Homo sapiens: one gene and its partner. The protein of the gene in region 1 interacts with the protein of each later gene in a biochemical or structural test. Each region holds a gene or a part of one and is shown on either strand. Other genes may lie near its edges.

Region 1 (4,470 bases):
CACAACCTCTCCCTCCCAGGTTCAAGCGATTCTCCTGCCTCAGCCTCCTGAGTAGCTGGGATTACAGGCACTTGCCACCACACCAGGCTAATTTTTGTATTTTTAGTAGAGATGGGATTTCGCCATGTTGGCCAGGCTGGTCTTGAACTCCTGACCTCAGGTGATCCACCCACTTTGTGGATCTCCCAAAGTGCTGGGACTACAGGCATAAGCCACCACGCTCGGCCTCATTGTGTCTTCTGCCTCAGTACATCCATATTTTGAAATACATATTATTTTATTATAATTTGTTTTTGAGACAGGGTCTCCCTCTGTCACCGGGCACTGTAGCATGTGTCTTTCAAACATTATCTCATTTGATCCTCTCCCCAACTCTAGGAAGAAGATACAATTATTATCATCCTTATTTTACAGAATTGGAAACCAAGGCACAGAGAGGTGAAGGGACTCGCCCAAGGTCACACGGAAAGTGGTGGGTCAGGGGATTGAACTGAGGGCAACTGGCTCCAGACCCTGAACTCTCCAACCCTCTGCCACCCTCCTCCTAGGTGAGGGAGATTACATTACTGGGGACCCTGTTTCAGGATATTAAGGGGTTTTCCAAGATGTTTCTCATAGAAAAAAGAAAAAAAAGGGTGTGGCTCATGCCTGTAATCCCAGCACTTTGGGAGGCCGAGGCAGGCAGATGACTTGAGGTCAGGAGTTCAAGATCAGCCTGTCCAACATGGTGAAACCCCATCTCTACTAAAAATACAAAAATTAGCCAGGCATGGTGGCAGATGTCTATAATCCCAGCTATTCGGGAGGCTGAGCCAGGAGAATTGCTTGAACCTGGGAGGAGGAGGTTGCAGGTTGCAGTGAGCCAAGATCACACCACTGCACTCCAGCCGGGCGACAGAGACTCCATTTCAAAAAAAAAAAAGAAGACAAGCAAGATGTTGAGTGTGACTGGGTGGAAGCCACTGACTTGTCCCTGGCACAAGTGTGCTGATATCCCTTCCCCCTCCTTCCTCACGTCCTGCATCTCAGCGAGAATTGGGGTGCCGGGGTTAGCTGTGTGGCCGTCATCCCAGGCCCAGGTGAAGCCCTCGATCAGGTGAGGCCATGATCCCAACGAGTGTTTTAGCCCAGATCCTGCCTCTTCCCTGCTTTCTGCCGAGAAGCGGGACCTCCTCTATGGAAAATATCCAGCTGGGTGAGCCTGGGAGGGAGGAGGTGAGTTGGGCTGGACTCAGGGACCGACTCTTCCCGTCTCATGACTGTGTTTACTGGGCTGGATTTTGGGAAGGGGCCAGATTGCATCAGACAGGGCCTGATGGGCTGGAGCCAGACTGTGGTCTGAGGAGGAGACACAGCCTTATAAGCTGAGGGAGTGGAGAGGCCCGGGGCCAGGAAAGCAGAGACAGACAAAGCGTTAGGAGAAGAAGAGAGGCAGGGAAGACAAGCCAGGCACGATGGCCACCTTCCCACCAGCAACCAGCGCCCCCCAGCAGCCCCCAGGCCCGGAGGACGAGGACTCCAGCCTGGATGAATCTGACCTCTATAGCCTGGCCCATTCCTACCTCGGTAAGGCCCACTCAGCCATCTCCACGGTCCTTCCTCCTCTCCCGAAATCAGGACCCACCCCTCTTGTTTCCTCTCATTTCCTTTCCTTTCCTCTTCGTTTCTTTCTTTCTTTTTTTTTGAGAGAGTCACTCTGTCACCCAGGCTGGAGTGCAGTAGTGTGATCACAACAACTCAAACAACTCACCGCAGCCTCGAACTCCTGGGCTCAAGTGATCCTCCTGCTTCAGCCTCCTGAGTGGCTGGAACTTCAGGTGTACACCACCTGCAGTGGTGAGATGGGGTCTCACTATGTTTCCCAGGCTGATCCCAAATTCCTGGGCTCAAGCAATTCTCCTGCCTTGGCCTCCCAAAGTGCTGAGATTACAGGAGTGAGCCACCCTGCCCAGCCCACTCACCCTTTTCTAGCCAACCTGTTCCTTGGACCCTCACGTCACCCCTGTCTAATCCCTTATCCCAGGAGTGCTATGTTACTCAGCCTGGGACCTCACACACATCTGGGGTCCCACATTCCACAGAGGGGAAGCAGCAGGCTTCTCCCTGCTCTTCCCATCCCCACAACCCTGAACCCCTGCCTCTCCTCTGACAGGGCCTCTCATCATGCCTATGCCCACTTCACCTCTGACTCCTGCCTTGGTTACAGGAGGTGGAGGCCGGAAAGGTCGCACCAAGAGAGAAGCTGCTGCCAACACCAACCGCCCCAGCCCTGGCGGGCACGAGAGGAAACTGGTGACCAAGCTGCAGAATTCAGAGAGGAAGAAGCGAGGGGCACGGCGCTGAGACAGAGCTGGAGGTAAGGAGTCGGGGGGCCCAGAGAGCTCAAGGTGGTGCTTCTGCCATGAAGGACAGGCCGGAAGGTGTGTGATTGGGTGGGGAGGAGGGATCAGGCAACTGTTGTCTTGATGCAGAATAAAACGAGACATATGTTTGATTGTGAGTTTCCTAGTGGCCAGAGCAAAGTGGGAACACAGAACCTTTCCAATTGAAGGGAAATTTGACTTACAGAGACAGAAATTGAGGATAGAGAGGGTGGGTCCTTCCCTGGAGTCACAAATCAAGTGAGTGGGAGAGGCAGAATTAGAACCCAGATCTCTGTCCCTTTTACCACCTGCTTTTCCTCACCCCCCAGATGAGGCCAGACCATGGACACTACACCCAGCAATAGAGACGGGACTGCGGAGGAAGGAGGACCCAGGACAGGATCCAGGCCGGCTTGCCACACCCCCCACCCCTAGGACTTATTCCCGCTGACTGAGTCTCTGAGGGGCTACCAGGAAAGCGCCTCCAACCCTAGCAAAAGTGCAAGATGGGGAGTGAGAGGCTGGGAATGGAGGGGCAGAGCCAGGAAGATCCCCCAGAAAAGAAAGCTACAGAAGAAACTGGGGCTCCTCCAGGGTGGCAGCAACAATAAATAGACACGCACGGCAGCCACAGCTTGGGTGTGTGTTCATCCTTGTTCTTTGTGTGTTTTTGTTCGGGCATGTGTGTGCTTGCCTGTGCCTGCACATTCATGAGCCTGAGAGAGCATCTTTGATGTGTATTTGTGTTTGGTGTATGTATCTGGGGCAGGGAGTGTTCCTGCTCTTGCAGGGTCTACGCTGTGAATGCAGCTTTTGGTTTGTTTGCTTTTGCTTGCATATATTTTAGTGCATACATTTCTGTGGGCTCCTACGTAGTGGAAAGGAATTTCTTCTGCTTTTTTGCGATACTGCCCATGAAACACGGCCCTCCCCAGCACCTGTTTTTGTTGATTGTGTCCTGTTCATAGACGGGAACGCTACTTATGAGTGCCATCTAAAAGTCAGAGAAAACTGAGATTTAAAATATTAAAAGCCAGGGCCGGGGGCAGTGGCTCACGCCTGTAATCCCAGCACTTTGGGAGGCCGAGGTGGGTGGATCACAAAGTCAGGAGTTCAAGACCAGCCTGACCAACATGGTGAAACCCCATCTCCACTAAAAATACCAAAAATTAGCCAAGCATGGTGGCAGGTGCCTGTAATCCCAGCTGCTCAGGAGGCTGAGGCAGTAGAATCGCTTGAACCCAGGAGGTAGAGGTTGCAGTGAGCCGACATCGTGCCATTGCACTCCAGCCTGGGTGACAGAGGGAGACTCTGTCTCAAAACAAACAAACAAACAAAAACTAAAGTCTGGGAGCAGTGGCTCATGCCTGTAATCACAGCAGTTTAGGAGGCCGAAGTGGGAGGATTACTTGAGCCTAGGAGTTTGAGACCAGCCTGAGCATCATAGTAAGACCCCATCTCTACAATTTTTTTTTTGAGACAGAGTCTCACTCTGTTGCTCAGGTTAGAGTGCAGTGGCACCATCTTGGCTCACTGCAACCTCTGCCTCCCGGGTTCAAGCAATTCTCGTGCCTACGCCCCCTGAGTAGCTGGGATTACAGGTGAGCACCACCACGCCTGGCTAATTTTTGTTTTTTTGTTTTTTTGATACAGAGTCTCACTCTGTTGCTCAGGCTGGAGTGCAGTGGCATGATCGCAGCTCACTGCAACCTCCGCCTCCTGGGTTCAAGCTATTCTCCTGCTTCAGCCTCCTGAGTAGCTGGGACTACAGGCACCTGCCACCATGCCTGGCTAATTTTTGTATTTTTAGTAGAAACAGAGTTTCACCATGTTGGCCAGGATGGTCTCAATCTCTTGACCTCATGATCCACCCACCTTGGCCTCCCAAAGTGCTGGGATTACAGGCGTCAGCCACCACGCCTGGCCAATTTTTGTATTTTTAGTAGAGATGGGGTTTCATCATGTTGGCCAGGCTGGTCTCAAACTCCTGGCCTCAAATGATCTGCCCACCTCAGCCTTCCAGCCTTTGGGAGGCCAAGGAGGGAGGATCGCTTGAGGCCAGGAGTTCGAGACCAGCCTAGGCAACATACCAAGGCCCTGTCTCTAC
Region 2 (2,532 bases), on another chromosome or scaffold:
TTGACACTACAGTCCAAATTTGCTTCTGATCACACTAGAATAGTTTTACCAATGTTCATTATTTTTCAACTTCCTTTATTAAGAATTAAGGCTGGTTGGGCGCAGTGGCTCACGCCTGTAATCCCAGCACTTTGGGAAGCCGAGGTGGGCAGATCATTTGCGGTCAGGATTCCAATACCAGCCTGGCCAATACGGTGAAACCCCATTTCTACTAAAAATACAAAAATTAGCCAGGCGTGGTAGCGTACTCCTGTAATCCCAGCTACTCAGGAGGCTGAGGCAGAATTGCTTGAACCCTTGAGGCAGAGGTTGCAGTGAGCCGAGATTGCGCCACTACACTCCAGCCTGGGCCACAGAGCGAGACTGTGTCTCAAAAAAATAAAAATAGAAGACTGCACTAATGCCACCAACGTGCATATTGATTTGAAGGCATCTTGCAGCAACTTTTAAAAATTATTGTACATATATATTTAAAAGCATACTTTATTAATGTGCTTATTAAAAAGTTTAGGGAAAACTTTAAGTGTTCAAAATGTCAAGTTTGTTAGGCATCAGTTTGTTAGTGTTTGGGAGTATTGCCTCAGATATCTGGGCAAAATTTTTTCCTCCCATAATATTAAATTATTGGCTGACAGTTAATGAATTTTGCCAATAAGTAAAATAATCAAGAAGTTACAAAAAGGATAAGATACTCAGCTATCTTGGCCTTCAAAACGCCAATGGTGGATTCTAACTGAAATTTTATATATAAATGGTAGATAATCCACCAAACCCGAGGAGTTAACAATTAAAGTTGGCCTATTTATAGTTCACTTTAATAGCTACAATGGAAGATTCAATTTTGGAAACTCAAAAAGGTCAACTAATTTCAAAACTCTTAGGCAAGCTTCTATAACAATGTTACCCATTCCTTAGTAAACAAAAAAAATATCCAAAAAGCTACATTCACATTTTTTTGCATTGGTTCACAAATTTAAATGAATTTAGATTACCTTTAGAATAGTAATTAGAAGCCCTGGGCAGTATGGGAGTTGAGATGTGGGCTTTATTTGGCCCTTAGTAGCTGTGTGACCTTGGGCAAGTCACCTCAACAACTCATCATCTAAAGGGAAGGGTTGGGACAGACTGTAATTCATGGACTCTTATGAATCCCCTAAAACTGTATGAAAAACTACCATGTATATACACTTTTTGGGGAAGCTGGTCCAGTTTTCATTAGGTTCTCAGAGGCAACCTTGATCCCCAAATAAGCTTGCTATGATAACTATATAAGGCTATCACTTGTAAATTGTTCCAGTTCTAAATAGTTGAGTCCTTGTCATAGGAAGAACTCTTAAGATGGCTCCCAAGATTCCCTGGTATACATACTCCATATAACCCCCTCCCTTGACTGTGAACAGGATCTTTGAATATGATGCGTATCACCCCTGTGATTGGACTACAATGCAGGGCAAAGGTGAAGGGATTTTGCAGGGGTAATGAAGGTACCTCATCAGTTTGGCTTTGGGTTAATCAAAAGGGAGATCACCCTGGTGGGTAGGTGGCCTGATCTAATCAGGTGAGACCTTTAAAAAAGCGCTTAAGGCCTTCCCTGAGATCAGAGATTCTCTTGCTGGCCTTGAAGAAGTTCCCATGATTTCTTCAGTTGCTAGGCAATGGATTTTGCCATATGTGCATAAAAGAGGACCCCCTAGCTTCAGATAAGACTGCAGCTCTGGCTGACACCTTTATTGCAGCCTTGTGAGACCCTGAGCAGAAAACCTAACTACACTCTTGACCTACAGAAATTGTGAAATAATGTATGTTGTGTTTTAAGACACTAAATTTATGGTAATTATACCAAAATTACACAGCAGTTATTCTCTAAATTCAAAATTTAGCTTAATCTCTGTAACTTTTTCCTTGAGGAAACTGAGGCAATGGAGAATCCAAAAAGGGTGCCCCCATAAATTACTGTTACAATAAACCCAGTCATTTTACAATGCAGTTATACCTTTAAAGAAACAAACAACTCCTCACCCTATGAAGTGCTGCTGAGGTAAGCCTAAACTAAATGATACACTCCCTCTCCCCAAAATTATTCTAGATCCATTTTTAATGATTCATAGATAGCTCTAATTATAGAAATGCTCCAGGTTTGGTCCAGAGCAATGTGGACCAATGGAAAGTATTATTTCCACCATAACACACAATTACTGAAGTCTTTGAAAATTACAAAGGAAATATATTTAAAGATAGATTTTAGACTAGGGCGTCTCACACACCCCTAATATAACATTCTTATTTTTACAGCACTTGAGGTGGTCTCAATGTTCAAAAAGACAGTTTAAGACATGAAACGTTAAGAACGTTTAGCTTATTAGGCATATTATTCTATGCCCCCATCCCCATCAGAAATAAGCCTGTGTTAAAAATGAAACAATTTCCTAGATCACTGGAGAATTAAAAAAAAAAAAAAAGTGTTTAACCAGGTAACCGTGATGAACTGTCAACTGTACTGAATCAATTTCAGAGACAGAAAAGCCCTTCCCA

Evidence for each region.
Region 2: the proteins of NUPR1 (region 1) and KPNA4 form a complex in vitro, tested with the Homo sapiens proteins (one study listed by BioGRID).

Annotation. Positions count from the first base shown.
Region 1 is NC_000016.10:28,535,892-28,540,361, reverse strand, and holds the start of NUPR1 (nuclear protein 1), read left to right. Parts: upstream 1-1,387; 5' UTR 1,388-1,454; coding exon 1,455-1,566; intron 1,567-2,152; coding exon of another isoform or gene 2,153-2,206; coding exon 2,207-2,343; 3' UTR 2,344-2,356; intron 2,357-2,692; 3' UTR 2,693-4,470. UniProt on the Homo sapiens protein: Transcription regulator that converts stress signals into a program of gene expression that empowers cells with resistance to the stress induced by a change in their microenvironment.
Region 2 is NC_000003.12:160,497,040-160,499,571, forward strand, and holds part of KPNA4 (importin subunit alpha-3), read right to left. Parts: 3' UTR 1-2,532. UniProt on the Homo sapiens protein: Functions in nuclear protein import as an adapter protein for nuclear receptor KPNB1. Binds specifically and directly to substrates containing either a simple or bipartite NLS motif.